Linked DNA regions of Homo sapiens. The protein of the gene in region 4 purifies or fractionates together with the protein of the main gene of each other region. This does not show direct contact. Each region holds a gene or a part of one and is shown on either strand. Other genes may lie near its edges. The genes, in order: FAM168B, TNKS2, IFI27 and IFIH1.

Region 1 (4,030 bases), about 31 Mb from region 4:
TGACATGGCCATGGTGGTCCCAGCCACCATGCCCATGGTGACCCCGTTGCCTCTAGGAGGGGGGATGGGAGCAGGGTACACCGTTGCAGGCATGCCGTTGGGCTGCACCACCGTGGTGTGGTGGATGACGTGAGGAGGTGCTGCATACAGCGGCTGTGTGTAGTACGTGCCTTGCTGTGGGGAGAAGAGAGACAACTGACACAGGGTCCCAGGGCCAAAGGATGAACGCCCAGGTGGTATCACCCCTTCCCACACAGCAGTGTGTACCCAAGCATACCTGTGCATACGGGCTCTGCTGGGGGTAGGCACTTCGCACAGGGTACACGGCAGTCTGGTAGGGGTTCGGGGAGGAGGAGTACGGTGGCACAGCCCCGCTGGTGGGGGAACAGGACACTTTGTAAGGTGTGCCAGGAGTGTAACCTGGAACAAAGAAGGCAATGGCCTGAGTTCACCCAAGCCGGTCCAGGCGCAGGGAGAGGACACAGGCAGGGAGGAGCTAAGCTGCGTGTCAGCCCCACGCAACTCGCCAGACCTGCTGCCACTGCCGCCCCCACTCTCCTCCACTAAGATCTGACTTCATTCTTACTTTGTGTACGTGTGTGCATGCACGTGTGTGTGGTGGCAGGGTGTTGGGGAGGAGGAAAAAATACCAAAAGAGAACGTTCTACAGATGGAATGCTCACACAAGGACAGGAAATAAAAACTGTCTTGTCCTGCTGGAATTTAAATTGGTATGGCATTCCTGGGGCTAAACTTGGCATCTAAAGTATATATGCCTTTTAATCCCACAATTCCACTTCTAGAAGTCTGTCTTAAAGCAATACACATGGATCTATACACACACAGAGACTTAACTGTAAGCATGCTCATCATAGTGTTGTTTGTTACAGCAAAAACAGGAGAAACTTGCCCAGCACCAGGACTGGCTAAGCACTCTATGGTAAAAAGCCCTCTGGGTTAAGGGAGAAAGCTGAACACACATACTTGCTTTTGTCCCCACACAAAATGACATGAAAATGACAATAAAGCAGATTAAGAGAAAAAAGACATAAAACTCACCAAGAATGGAAGAGAAGACAGCATGTTGAAGCCTGGCAAGCTGAAGTGGAGGATGATTGAGCAGACTCGAGAAGAAGGCACTCAGCCAGCAGCGAGGAGCAGCTGGCACCAAGAGAGCCGTTCCCCAAAGCCCTGCAAACTGCTGGCCACCAACCCGTCTCCAGAAGCAGATAAAGAGACCCCATCTAGTAGAGTGGTTGAGTTTGCTGAATAAGCAGTTAGGTGTCCCTTCCTGACCCCAACAGAGAAGAGGGGTTTGGTCTCAGGGGAGGGAGAGGGTCTCTGGACAGCTATGTTCACAGCAGCTATATTCACAATGATCAAAAGCTGGCAATGGCCCAGATGCCCACCAGGAGACAAATGGGTAAACACACTGTGGTGCATCCATACAAATCCTACTGAGCAAGCCAAAGGGACAAACTGCTGATCCATACAAGCACATGAATGAATCACAAAGCCACACCATGTCAAAGGAGCCAGATACAAGGACACATGCTGGATGCATGTACTGACAGAAGCTCTAGGAAAGACCAACCTAATCCAGAGTCATCAAAACCCCAGCAATGGTGCCAGGGGCCAGAGGGGCATGCGAGAACCTTTCCAAAGAGTGCATTCACTCAAATGTGGTGACGGTCATACAGCTGTGTATGACTGTCCAAACATACCAAACTGTACACTGAGAAGGATTAACTTATAATATGTAAATCAGACCTCCATACAAGTGCTTATGGCATCTCACATTCCCATGGGTGAGAGCAGGAGGGGTGGAGCACTCACACACTGTCCGTGTCAGACAGTGCAACTTTGCAAGCCAGAGACACATCCCGCAACATCCAGCAATCCACTCCCAAAACTTCCCCTAGAAAAATGAAAACACAGGTCCACGAAAGACTTGTAAAAAGTGTTCAATCTTATTCCTAGTAGCCAAAAATGGGAACTAATCCAAATCTTCATCAACTGGAGAAAGGATAAATCATGATATGTCTCTATAAACATTACTCAGCAATCAAAAGGAAAAAACATGGATGAATCTCACAACATGCTGAGCTTTCCAAAGAAGCTGGAAACAGAACAGCACATAGAGCAATGATCCCGTTTATTCCCTAACAACAAAGAAATTTACCTACGGTGACGGAAATCAGAGGGGAGAGGGCGAAGAAAGCGTTCTGGGATGATCAAAGTATTCCATGTTTTATTTGGAGTGGTGGTTCCATGGGCATGTACAACTGTCAAAACCCACCCAGTTGAGCACTTAATATGTGGGTGTTTTGTGCATAAATTATACCTCAAGTTTGAAAAAATGAGCTGAGTATAAAGAATTTTGGATCACCTGAGCCGGAGGTCAACGCTGCAGTGAGCTGTAATTATGCCTCTGCATTCTGCCTGGGCGACAAAGTAAGACGCTGTCTCAGAAAAATAGTAATAATAATTAAAGTTAATTTTTAAAAAATTTTACACAACTGGGCTGTTAGCAATATGTACGTGTGTGTATTTTTTTTTTATTTTTATTTTTTGAGATGGAGTCTTGCTCTATTCCCTAGGCTGGAGTGTAGTGGTGCAATCTCAGCTCACTGCAGCCTCCGCCTCCTGGGTTCAAGCAATTCTCATGCCCCAGCCACCCGAGTAGCTGGGATTGCAGGCATGTGCCACCACATCCAGCTAATTTTTGTAATTTTTAGTATAGACGGGATTTTGCCATGTTGGCCAGGATAGTCTGGAACTCCTGGCCTCAAATGATCCTCCTGCCTCAGCCTCCCAAAGTAGTAGGATTACAGGTGTGAGCCTGTATATATATATGTGCCTGGTCCATATATTTTGTTTTAATTTGAAAGGGAAAGAGAATGATTGGCCCCCTGGGAAATTCACTAGTCTGGGGCCTTTTGTTTGGGGTGCCAGTGCAATTCTGTGACATGGATATATTGCACAGTGGTGAAGTCTGGGCTTTTTCACCTAAATACTGCACACTGTATCAATTAAGCAACACGAAGCCTTCAACATCAGCCTTCTCATACTCCCCTGCATGCCCTTTCATGGTCTCACGGTGGGAGGTGCTGTGGCTGAGATCTGCAGCAGACCAAACAACAGGTGGTCCTGTCCTATGCAGCAAAGCGGGTGCTCACACCCAGATTTGTCTGCATCCAGAGTCCTGACCCTTCTACCCAAACCAAGCAACTCCCAACCTCAGCTAGTCTCCATTTGAAGAAAGAAAAGATTCCTCCAGGGCTCCCTGTATTTTGAAATTCGCTCACCGCTATGTTAACCGTAAATAGAAACACTGCCAAAATTTGAATACAACAACTTTTTAATACTGGTGCTTGGCCAAAGGAAAGCAGAATACGCAGATTTTCCATTAGGATTTGGAAAAGCAAGTTTCAAGACAAGAGCAGTTACAGAGTTTCCTTCTCTGGCTGCTCATCTCCTCGTCTTTAAGAAGGCTAAAAAAGGAAAGTGAAAAGGAAAGCTTCACAGGTGTACACAGGTTAAAACTCATCAAACTGAAGCTTTAAATCTGTACACTTAGTTGTATGCCAATTACGCCACAACGAGGTTGTATAACATTTTCTTTAATTATAAAGAAAAAGGTAGTGTGAATGCCATCAAAGAATTATAAAGGAAAAGGTAGTGTGTCCGGCCATGTACTGATACTCCCAGGAGACCCGGGACAGTCCAATTCCCCCTAAGTGACTAGCTAACTCAGGGAAGAAATGCAAAAAGGAAGCATGGTGTGTGGCGGGCACACATGTGACTAGTGAATGGTGACTGGGGCATTGTACCAACACAGAGAGGCTATTCACCATCAACATGGGGCCATGCCCTGTCACAGCGGAGATGATCAGGACAGATCCAGCCCTCTCCATAAGGTGCTTGGCTTCAGGGGGAAAAGAAATCACAGGAAAACAAACCACCAACATAGCAGCATTTTATGCAGTCTTGGCAAGCAATGAGGAGTCAGCTCAGAGAGGGGCAGGTG
Region 2 (4,030 bases), on a different chromosome or scaffold from region 4:
CACGAAATGGCAGAAATTTTGCATTATTTTTTCTTGCTTTTTATACCATGTTTAAATCATGTATATTTAGACAAACTTGTATGAGTCCGCTGTGTCTATGATGGAACTCCACTGAGGTATTAGCTATAGCTCAGTGATTTTAATGATTTCCTAACATCTGTAATGCAGCTGAAAAAGCTGTACTGAAACCACAATATATTGTATATTTGCACTGAAAACAAAGGTACACTGTGCCAGTTTTATGAGTGAAACCTTAAAACAAATGTCACGAAATGAATTGTACCCTGCAAAATTCTTATGTTGAAGCCCTAACCCCAGTACCTTAGAATATGACTCTATTTGGAGACAGAGCCTTTAAAGAGCTAAAAAAGTTAAAATGAGCCCATTAGGGTGGGCTCTAATCTAATTTGACTGGTTTCCTTAAAAGTAGAGACTAGGACATATAGAAAGAGACACCATGTTCCAATGGAGGACACACTGAGAAGGTAGACAGCTGCAAGCCAAGAGGGGGTTTCAGAAGAAACCAACTCTGCCAACACCTTGAACTTGGACTCCTAGCCTCCAGAACTGTGAGAAAACAAATTTCTGTTGTTTAAGCCACCTGGTCTTTGGTATTTTGTTATGAGAACTCTCACAAACCAAAACAACAGATAACTTTGGTGAGAGGCTTATGTAACTTCTGAGAGTTTTGAGATTTTTTTTTTTTCCTGCTTGTGCTTAGCAGCTACCATCAGGAAAAATAGAAAGCTTTAGCTTCCTATAAGGAAGGCTGGCTCAAGTAGGCATATTTTTCAAAACTTGTTTACCAAAGGTGATACCAATAAAATGATTACCTGGAATAATGATTCCCAAAGCACATGGGGACTGGCAGAGCCTACTTCAATTGTTCTTACTGAATGTAACATACTAGTAATAAAGTGAACTCGAACTCAGCTAATAGCTTCAAGTACGGTCGTCCTGTACAAATACACTGAAGAGTATAATGGTGGCATTAGAAGATACTTGATTTGAATTTTTATTTATTTTTTTTATTTTTTGAGACAGGGTCTCACTTTGTTTCTGGAGTACAGTGGCACAATCAAGGCTTATTGCATCCGTGACCTCCTGGGCTCAATCTTCCCACCTCAGCCTCCTGAATAGCTGGGACTACAGGTGCACACCACCACTCCTGGCTAATTTTTGTAATTTTTTATAGAGGTGTGGTTTTGCCATGTTGCCCAGGCTGCTCTCAAATTCCTGGGCTCAAGCAATCCTCCTGCCTTAGCCTCATAAAGTGTTGGGATTACAAGTGTGAGCCACCATGCTTGGCCTGATTTGAATTTTTAAAGTTTAGTTACAGAAAATATTTTACCTGGGTAAAATGAATCTCAGATATTACCAGCCTAAATCTGTGAAACTTCATTCACTTACCTGCTAAATGTAAAGGTGTTGAATGTCTGCCTTGGGTATCGCGGCAATTTACATTATCAGGAGAAGACAACTTCTTCACTCTGGCTAAACAACCCTTCTTGGCAGCATCTAGCAAAGCTGCATCTCCCCTAAGCAGATCTTGAATATCTGTATCTCCATCTTTAACAAGATCCAAAGGAGTATTTCCATCCCTGTTTTTTTTTGTAGGGTCTGCACCATGCTAGGCATGTGAAAAACAGAAAAAAAGGGGGAAATGGCTTAAATGTGCCTTTGGTCAATGAGAAAATAGTCAGTGTTAACTATACCAAAGAAAAACTAAATTTATATTGAGACTCTACTTTGAAGGTTAACATCACTGTTACTAATGTTTATACAAAGAATTATTATAAAAAGAATACAGAGGCAGTTAAATATTACTGGATTTTTTAATGCATTAATGTAGTCAAAATTTTAAACTACATTCAAAATAAAGTCATATTTCATTAAAAATTAACTTTCATGTTATACTATTTTTACTTTTCATGAACATTTAAATAAAGTATAAATCTCTGTATTCTTGTTATTGTAAAATATCCACTGGTATCTGTACTGAACCAGTATCATCCATTTTATCAATGCTAAATAAATCTGGCTTGTAAGTAAATAATTCATCAAATATTTTTATATTTGATGAATATAAAAGTACCAAAGAGAAAAACTAAAAATAATAAGAGAACTATCACATGATAGTTGGCTCTAGACAAAAATAACTCTAGGTGCTAGTAAACATACTTGTGGATTAAAATATAAAATGTTTATTATATTTATTCTAAAATCTAGGTACAGAATTAGGTAACATTGCTTCCCATTGCTTACTAGTTTAACTTTATACTAGAATTATTTAGAAAACCATAAACATATGCTATGTAATTCATACTCTTTACAGTTAAGTATTTAAATATACCTGGAGCAGAAGTTTGCAAATTTCATATTTTCCTTTTGCTGCTGCTTCATGTAAAGGTGTAAATTTCCATAAATCAGCTACATTAACTACTGCTCCATGTTTAACAAGAAGTTCTGCAACTTCATAATGTCCATAAGAACATGCATTGTGCAAAGGTACAAGGCCTCTGAAAAGTAATAAATGAACAATAATGCCACAGAAGAACATGTTTTAATTTAAATAATTACATATAACTGATGAAAGATAATTCTTGAACTACATAAGGAATTATACTGATTATACTTTGTAGAACCTAAATCTATTTAAGGCAGAAATAAGTTCTTTTTGGTGAGTCAGGGGAGAACATTTAAAAAATGTTTTAAATGCAGAGACTATAACATTCATCCATATATGCAACGTCTAGAATTGTATATTTTTAATAAAAAATAACTTCAAGATAAACTGGAAGAATTAAAAAACCCTCCATGGAAACTGAAAAATTTACTACATTAAAAGTCAATATCACACTAATGTTATAATCTCCTTGGCCATTATAAAATTCTCAGGCATTATGCCAATAAAGTCTTTATATGAATGCTAACCATATAAAATCTTAATTGAAATTAAGAAGCTCTATTTAATATTTAGGCCAATGTTAGGAAACAGGCTTTCTTGAAAAATAAAACATATTATATTTCCAGGTTTTCCTAAAAAGGTCAAGTAAAAGTAAGGAAGAGAGTCCATAACAATCATTGGCATTTACCCTTTATCTTTAGCATGCACATCAGCTCCATGCTGTAGCAGATATTCCACCACGGACACTCTGTTATACCCAGCTGCAAAATGAAGTGGTGTAGACTGACGCCCTTCAATGTCTCTGCAGTTGACACTCTGAACAGTACACAGTTTCTGAAGGACAAAACACAACATACATGATACTACATCTACATATTGTTATTTCTTGTTTCAAGTCATTTAGTAGGAATTTTCAAAGTGTCTGACTTATTTTCTTGTCTCATTAAATCAGTATTCTCAGAAACTATTTAGTATTCTTATTTCACCTTGTCATTTACTGGGAATCCCTCTGGTCCTCTCATCCATGCCCTTTTTTTTTGTCTTATTATTTTTTTGAGACAGAGTCTAGCTCTCTTACCCAGGCTGGGGTGCAGTGGCGCAATCTCAGTTCACTGCAACCTCTGTTTCCTGGGTTCAAGCAATTCTCCTGCCTCAGCCTCCCGAGCAGCAGGGACTACAGGCACATGCCAGGACACCTGGCTAATTTTTATATTTTTAGTAGAGGCGGGGTTTCACCATGTTGGCCAGGATGGTCTTGAACTCCTGGCCTCAAGGGATCCTCCCACCTTGGCCTTCCAAATGCTAGGATTACAAGTGTGAGCCACCGTGCCTGGTCTCACGTATGCCTTTATATTCTACTTTTTCTAACGCTCAAGGGTAAATTTTATCATTACCGCTACTATATATATATACAGGTAAACTAAGTGCCAATCATCAGCAAGTGTAACTTGCATTTTGTGGCAAATATACATAGAGGTACATGAGATTACGGTAGTACCAGCATTACCAAGGAGCTTATTAAGAATTCAGAATCTCAGATCTCTATCTACTGAGTCAGAATTTGCCCTTTAACAAGATCCCTAGGTAATATGGAAACACATTAAAGTTTGAAAAGTACTCCTT
Region 3 (4,110 bases), on a different chromosome or scaffold from region 4:
CCTGGCCATTATTTCGTGCCATTCAGAACCTGCCCTACCCTGAGACCTCCCTCCAACCTTTTCCTACTTCTATTAATATTTCTTTCTTTTTTTTTGAGACAGAATCTTAGCTCTGTCACCCAGCCTGGAGTGCAGTGGCACAATCTCGGCTCACTGCAACCTCTGCCTCCTGGATTCAAGTGATTCTTCTGACTCAGCTTCCCAAGTAGCTGGGATTACAGGCATGCACCACCATGCCTAGCTAATATTTGTATTTTTGGTAGAGACAGGGTTTTACCGTGGTGGCCAGGCTGGTCTCAAACTCCTGACCTCGAGTGATCCGCCCTTCTTGGCCTCCCAAAGTGCCGGGATTGCAGGTGTGAGCCACCGTGCCTGGCCTATTAATACTTTCTGTCATTGTTCATTGTTCTACCTCCTGTTCCAAGCCTGGAAGCAGCACACCCACACCCTTCTGTCCTGCCCAGAGCACTTGGACAACAGTAAATTGTCCCAGTTGGTAAATAAGGGACGATATTATCTTCTTATCTTCCTCTGGGGTTGTTATGAGAATTAAATTGACAAACCTCAAGTGCTAGGGTAAGTGACTAGAACATAAAAGCGCTTGCTTAAGTTGAGCTGTTATTATTTTAATTTTATGAATTGCTTGATCTTAAACTGAGAAGTCATCTGCATTTCTGACAAACAGAAAGGACTGCTGGGCGTGGCCCAGGCCCTTGCTTGCTCATCACACTTCTCTGTACTGAGTTGGGAGCCCAGAGTGGTGTGTGTTGCCGAGGGCCAGTTACCTCCAAGTTGCAAAACAGGGTGCCAGTGAGGGACCCCAGCATGAAGGAGCTAGCCTCCAGTGCCCCCAGCAAGGGTCTGAGGAGAGAGATGTTGGGGCTCAGGGCAGCTGAGGATGACAGGGTCAGCAAAGGGTGAGTGCAGGCTCAAACAGAGGTTAGAGGTTGGGGCAGGGGTCAGAAGTCAGGGTCGGAGTCAGGGGCCCTGTGCCCCCATTCAAGCCTGTGCCATTTGTGCTGGCGGAGTTGGGGGAACCCCTGGATGTCCACCCACGGAGACAGAAAGGTAAAGGGCAGGGGATACACACAGAGGAGCACTTGTCAGCAGGTAGAAGCCAGGATTAGATGCTCATCGAATGACACTGATGGATCTCAAGAATATGGTTCTCAGTGTGGAAAAAAGCAATAGAATGGGATCTACAGCACACCATCCTGCATGTCAGTTAAAATGCCCGCAAACAAAACACAATACCCATTCTGCAAAAATACATATGAAAAACAGACACACATTAAATATATTAGAAAGGTTGACTTTGAGGGAGGGGAATCGAGGGTGAAAAGGAAGAAAATGAGAATAAATAAAACCAGAAAGAGATCTCCCAGAAACTAATGAAAAAAGTGAGCTGAAGAATTTTGTTAAAATCGATACTCTGGATGTGAGATCCCATAGGACACGGGGCCCTATTGACAAGGTAAACTCCTAAAGGAGATGAATTCTGATGGTGAATCTGGGGGAAGGGAGAGCTGAAGAGAGTGGGACTCAGTGGTAGATAGACCCTTTCCGGCTAGGCAGGAGGAGGCCCGGGCCCAGAGGGGAGAGGACCTGTGGAACACCCAGGGCTGGGCATCTGGCCAGAGTCTGCCTGCCCCGGGCCCCCTCCCAGATGGAAAGTTAGGGTGGACGCCTGCTGTGAGAAGACAGGACAGGGCAGCAAGGCTGCGGGTGTCCCCCATTTTCTCTCCCACGGGTCCCGGGACAGGACCCCCGCCCTTCCCAGCCGCCTCCTCGCCCCCAGCACCAGCCCCTCCCAGGAACACTCACCCAGGGGCAAAACTACGGCAGAGCCAGAGGCCACCCTGACCACTTTGGCCACACTGGTCACTGCTGATGAGGTGAGAGCAGAGGCCTCCATGCCTGCTCGGGTTAATTCCGTGGCCTAGAGAGTAAGAGATCCTCAACTTCAGCCAGACCTGCCGAAGGGATGGAGCTCTGAGGACGGGATGGGCACACAACCTGACTTGCTTCCCACTGTCCTGAAAAATGTGACGGGCTCCAGGGGGCTAGGGAGGCTGCTCTGAGCTTGTGGAGCAGCAGGCCTTGAAAGGATCCTGGGGTGAGGGAGGGAGGGATGTTGGGGAGTTGGGGCTACCAAAGGACCTGTGTTAGGTCAGGGCCCTGAGGGACTTTATTTCCCCAGGGGGGCTGCTTTCTTTCTCCTGAAAGTCCCAGCGCCAATGTCTTAGACACTTCCGGGACTCCCTTATCTCTCCACGGAGCAATTGAAAAAGCACCAAAACTAAGAAATCAGAACCAATCGCATTTTTAAGGCATATACAGCAGGCGAGGTGCCTGCTCTTATGTAATCTCCTCACTAACGTGAAAAAGATGGGACCCTCCTCCTCCGCATGTTACAGATGAGGGAGCGCGATCTGGCTCAGTGATTTGCTCCAGGTCAGAAGCTTTCCATAGGGAAGCAACACCCCGCCCAGGCATGGACTTGCAATGGCTTCGACTTGGTTCCTCCTAACACTTATCTCTTCCCCTTGCCCACTTTACCCCAAGCCGCCCTCAAGGCCTGAGGAAAACCTGGGCAAGGACAAAGCTAATTGTCCTTACATTCCAGAGTCCAGGGACAGGTGGGGCTCGAGTCCCTTCCCATCTGAGGCTCCCTGATGAGAACAAAAACACCGGGCAGAGAGTGGATGCTTAAGGCCTCCCCTCCGCTCCCTGAGCCCACAGCCCACCCAAGGTCCGGGGCCACGGGAAGGGTAGCTCCTGCCCACCCTCCCAGTCTTACCCAAAGAAGGAGAGTTCCTGAGAATGTGAAGCTGACCTCACCGTCTTAAGCTTGGATGTGTTCCCAAAGGGTGTGATCCCAGGCCTTTTAAGCAGCTCCACCCCGACTGAAGCACTGCCCCTTGACACAGGCAACAAATGAGATAGGTTTCATTTTCCAGGAAACCGAAACTGCAGACATCTTTCTCCCCTCATGCGCAGTCCAGAAGAAAATTCAGTTATTTACAGAAATAGGATTTGCCCATGGCATCAGTCATTGTCAGTTAATATAAAATGCTTTGTCATTTAATTCAAGGATGGGAGTGTGCTCTACGCAGAATGAAGTCACAAGAAGTAAGATCAAAGTTCTATAATAAAATGATAAATATTACTTTCTAATGAAGAAGGTGATTTTCAGAATAATAGTAGTCCTTGCGATAGGCAGATGTTCCGTTTTTCAAAAAAAGTCTCAACTGAAGGCCCACTGTGCTAGATACTGACTAGGCACTGGGACAGGACTGTAAACAAAACAGACCAAAATATCCATCCTCACAGAGTTTACCAGCAATGGGGGCAAACTAAACATAATAAATAACTAAATGTATAGAATGTTATTTGATGAAGCGCTAAAGCAAAAGGAGGTGAAGCAGTGACCTAGGCAGAATTATGGGGGGGCAGTCATTCCAGGTGGAGGCCACAGCAGTGGCAGAGCCCGTGTGGCAGGAGCAGCAAGGGGGCCAGTGTGGCCTCAGCAGGTGGGCAGGGGAGAGAGGCAGGAGGTGAACTCAGAGTTTAACAGGGATCCAGGCCCTGTGAGGCCACAAAAGCACTGCAAGGACTTGATCTTGTGTCCTGAAGCCATTGCAGGGGATTATCATCTATACCTTTTTGGGGAAAGGGAGATGAAGCTGAGAAATGACACAGTCAGGCTCACCCTGCAGCTGCTTTGAGAACAGGCGGAAGAGAAAGCACCAGGTCCTGGAATGTACATTTAAATCTTCCACATGAGTAGTGTGCGAGTTGTAAGATTCAAAATGGAGTCACTTGGGTAAAACCTCAGCAGACAGAGCCAGCAAGGCTTTAATGGGAGGGCTCTCACGCAAGATGAGGCTCTCCCGTTTGCCTGCTAACAGGAACTATCACAAGAAATGTTTCCAAACTGCAGCTTATCACATGGGCCACACAAGGACAGCTAGAAGCACAGGGAGAGCGAGCCAGTTATGCAAAAACACTTGCCTGGCACAGTGTCTCACAAACCCAATCCAAAACTGCAGGAACCTGACCATAACTCCAAGATTCCCAGTCCTACCTAGCAACTACTGACACTTGGCG
Region 4 (4,030 bases):
AAAAATATACAGTTTTATTGATTAAAAATTAATTAATTTAAAAACTATTTGGAAGTATAAATTAGTAAAACATACAACGAATTACACTAGAAGGTTTCATGAATTGTGGCTCATCTACAATCTTGCGCTATATCTAATAATTAGGATGGTTTAATAAATAAATTCATTACAATTGTCTTGACAATAAAACTGAATGACCAAATGACTGACTGTGATCATACAACTGGTAGCTAATCTGGTCATATCATTAGAAATAGTTCCAATCTGAGTGGGATTTCTTCTTTCAAAAGATATTTCTCTTTTTGGAGAGCTTATGAGAAGCAGTAAGTTCATGTTGAAAAGGTAAATGAATGACACCAGTATATGTTACTTTGAATCTTACCAAAAAATAAAGTCATGAGAAATCTATCTGTTTCATCCAGTTTCAAAGGTTTCTTTAAATCATCCTCATCTTCATCACCATCACAATACTCATCATCACCACCCTCATCACTATCATCTTCTATGACTGCAAACTTCTTATCTTTCTCTTCATTATAGAAAGTTTCAAGATGAGTATACGCATCTATCATTCGAATTGTGTCATTAATTTGTAGGGCCTCATTGTACTTCCTCAAATGTTCTGCACAAACACGTTCTTTGCGATTTCCTTCTTTTGCAGCTGTGAAAAAATATATTATGTAAGTGAAATAATAAGCATATAAACCCCCTAAAATTGTGCCATGGACTTGAATATATGTTACTAACTGCAAAACTGGCTTCACCTTGGTTTTAAAATGGGCAAGTTAAGGCTCAAAATGTGTCCTGAGCTCTGAAACAGGGCAAGTTTTCCAACTCCTAGACTTGCTGCTTGAGTTCTGCCTCAGCAAAAACATGTAGCTGATGCACAGAGAAATGGCATGAAAATATATTAGTTGAGTTTGCCTTTGGAGACAGAGCTATTAAAGTTTATCTCAAGACTCTGGAGACAAAGAGAAAATTGGATAGCATTGGAATCTCTCTCCTTAGAAAAGGAATTAGAACATGTTTATTATGCTTGTCCTACAGAGAACACAGAAATTCTATTTGGAACTACTTTTGCTTTCCATTTTTTGGGGAATCTGTGATATAGTCATCTAAAATCTTGGTATAAACATGGGATAAACTAAGTGTTAGGTCCAAACCTAAATTACCTTTTTTTTCCATTTGAATGGCCCATTGTTCATAGGGTTGAGTTCCAAAATCTGACATTGGACTCATTTGACAATAAGTTTGAATCCTTGTCATTATTTCTAGAAGTTTCTCTTTAAATGGATCCTAAAAATAAAGTACACACTTATTCTTATGTATTCTTATTGTTAAAGGAATAACATTATCTTTGTTAGAATAATTTCTAGGTTATAATAAATCTGATTCATCTTTGTTTAGACAAAGTAACAGGTTAGTGTCCCATCACTTGTCTGTACATTTATTTTTGTCAGCTTCTCTTTTAAGCCTGCCATCAAGCCACACCCACACCAACACCCTGTTACCTCTGCTGGAATCTCCAACTTAAAAGGTTAACAAAAGTAAAGTTAATGAATTATATAAACCTTGTATGTTAAAGGTAACTTAGAAAACACATATTGCATTAATGCCACAATTATTTAGAAAGCTTACAGTGTAATTTAAGAAACATTCCTCCTTTGTAAAACTGGTTTCAGTATTATTTCGACCAAAATAAAAAGTTGAAGTAGAGTCTGAATAAAGCCAGAAATAAAGGAGTGCATGCTATATGATTCCATTTATATAAAGTTCAGAATCAGTGAAAACTCATTTTTTGTTTTAGAAGTCAAGATAGTAGTGATTCCTGGGGCATGGTGACTGGAAGGGGGAGCCAGGAGCTTTTAGGATACTGGCAGTGTGCTGTCTCTTGATTTGGATTTTGTTTACATATGTGTATTCAGTTTAGGAAAATTCAGCAATCAGTACACATATGAATTTGTACTTTTCTGTATGTATGTTATGCTTCAAGGTATATAAAAAAATTAAAGTAAGTTTAAAAAATGGCAAATTCTTTTAAAAAATGTACCTGAGAAATTTAGTTTTAAAAATCTTTATGAGTAGAAACATGCATTTAAAATTATCAAGTAAAACCAAATAAGTAACAAAAAAAGGAAAGTGAATAAAATATATTCAACTGTGCTAGTGCAGCTGGAGTAGATAGCAGTCTTTTTCAGAATTTAAAAAAAGAGATATACGGAGGCTAGTTACTAACATTGGTTTAGTGCCTACTATATTTCAAGCATTGTTTTATCTACTATGCATATTTCATATCATTTGATCCCAACATTCTTATTTTCAATGGTATTATCAAGTACATATGGCCAGAATTTGTAATGCTTTCTAAATTTTACAAAATAAAGTATTGACATAATTTACTGGCCATAATGTCCAAATTGACTCTCAGTTTATTCTTATAATTCCTGAAAAATTCATCAGAAAAGCATCATTAAAGTAAATATTTCACTTCTTTACCATTGCACTGTTTTCCTAAGAAAGTAAATATGCAAGTATGCAAATTAGATAGGATTCCCATTATCATTGCCAAATGTAATTTGATAGCAACAAAATGGCTCTGTGGAATGTCAGAAAATCAATCCTGGAATTCACGAAGAAAATTAAAAAGGCTAAAACGAACTGTCATAACCCCTCCAGCTTAGTTACACATCCCTCTGCCCATGGCCCCTCACTGTCCCTTTTAACTCATATGTACAAACAATGAATAAGCTATTCCTCATGTAAATTAGAAAACTAAAAGAGGTCTAGAGGCGAGAATTCACTGTAGTGCTTTACTGCCTAACATCAATTAAAAAAAAACCTGAAACTTGTTTGCTAAAATTTTTAAATAATATTTTTCAGATGGTCAGTATAAAATAGCCTTTGCCATCTTTCTACTGAATGTAGTATTGTCAATCAATAGATATAAAACATTAAGCCCATACTTCTCTGGTTGCATCTGCAATGGCAAACTTCTTGCATGGCTCCTGTATTTGGTTTTTCAGTTGATCAAGGTTTTCTTTAACAGTTTTAATAGTAAATGCATCAAGATTGGCACATAGCTGGAAAAGAGACATTTTTCAATATTTATGCAATTATTTTTCCCTTTCACTTTATTCAACGTAGAACTCTTTTTCATGTAAAAAATATGTAGCATTAAATTGTAGCATAAATATGTGGTATAAAATTTCATGAAAGTAATATGTAGCATTGCTTGCTAAATATAGCATTTTAACATTGTTTTATTATGGATCTCATTAACCCACAATCAGCAACATTTGTCCTAATATAGGAAAAAGGAGCTTCTAAATCAAGTTGGTGTAATAACAGAGAAAAAGGTGTATTGATATTCATTCCTTAAATTCCATTTTCCAAGTGGAAAACTGACATGGAAAGAGTATAACAATTTACCATCATTGACAGAGAATGATTTTGAGATAACCATGTTACATGAGGCATATCAAAGGTCAACTTGACATCCGTGGATCATACTACCACCTTCTTCTACACATAAAGCAGGCATCTACACATAAAGCTGGGAGCATCCTTAGTCATGTTCCTTGATTATTAGATTGGAATTAGTCCTTAATCCCAGTAATAAATTATATTTTGGAGCCTATAATTGCATCTCTGAATGTTGTGTCTACTCTACATAATTTGTATTGAATTCAACTTAAAGTAAGGGACTTAAAATTCAAATGCAATTGCCTTGGTACCAAAATACTTCTTGGGCTACTCTGATTTACTTAACACTCAAGATTAACAGTAGCACTGTATGTGGTGTTACCATTAGGGGGCAGCTGACAAGCTCATCTTTAAAGATCTTCATATCCCTATTTCCCTTTAATTTGAATTACCTAGATTCCTAGAATAACATATGAAGGACAGAAAATACGCAGTTTTGAAACTCATGGAGTAAGACTTTATTATGTGTGACAACTAGAAACTTTCATAGTTTATGCATATTTCTATATCAGGTAGATCATTAAATTTAACCATAAGAGTAGATGTT

The links.
Region 1: the proteins of IFIH1 (region 4) and FAM168B purify together in Homo sapiens (co-immunoprecipitation; one large-scale study listed by IntAct). This does not show direct contact.
Region 2: the proteins of IFIH1 (region 4) and TNKS2 purify together in Homo sapiens (affinity purification with western blotting, with the first as the bait; one study listed by BioGRID). This does not show direct contact.
Region 3: the proteins of IFIH1 (region 4) and IFI27 purify together in Homo sapiens (affinity purification with western blotting; one study listed by BioGRID). This does not show direct contact.

What each region holds. Positions count from the first base shown.
Region 1 is NC_000002.12:131,055,276-131,059,305, forward strand, and holds part of FAM168B (myelin-associated neurite-outgrowth inhibitor), read right to left. Parts: intron 421-4,030; coding exon 278-420; intron 175-277; coding exon 1-174. UniProt on the Homo sapiens protein: Inhibitor of neuronal axonal outgrowth. Acts as a negative regulator of CDC42 and STAT3 and a positive regulator of STMN2. Positive regulator of CDC27.
Region 2 is NC_000010.11:91,839,772-91,843,801, reverse strand, and holds part of TNKS2 (poly [ADP-ribose] polymerase tankyrase-2), read right to left. Parts: intron 3,242-4,030; coding exon 3,096-3,241; intron 2,520-3,095; coding exon 2,354-2,519; intron 1,631-2,353; coding exon 1,411-1,630; intron 1-1,410. UniProt on the Homo sapiens protein: Poly-ADP-ribosyltransferase involved in various processes such as Wnt signaling pathway, telomere length and vesicle trafficking.
Region 3 is NC_000014.9:94,109,488-94,113,597, reverse strand, and holds the start of IFI27 (interferon alpha-inducible protein 27, mitochondrial), read right to left. Parts: upstream 2,801-4,110; intron 2,784-2,800; exon of another isoform or gene 2,620-2,783; intron 1,974-2,619; 5' UTR 1,916-1,973; coding exon 1,825-1,915; intron 1-1,824. UniProt on the Homo sapiens protein: Probable adapter protein involved in different biological processes. Part of the signaling pathways that lead to apoptosis.
Region 4 is NC_000002.12:162,277,033-162,281,062, forward strand, and holds part of IFIH1 (interferon-induced helicase C domain-containing protein 1), read right to left. Parts: intron 3,081-4,030; coding exon 2,964-3,080; intron 1,297-2,963; coding exon 1,173-1,296; intron 662-1,172; coding exon 383-661; intron 1-382.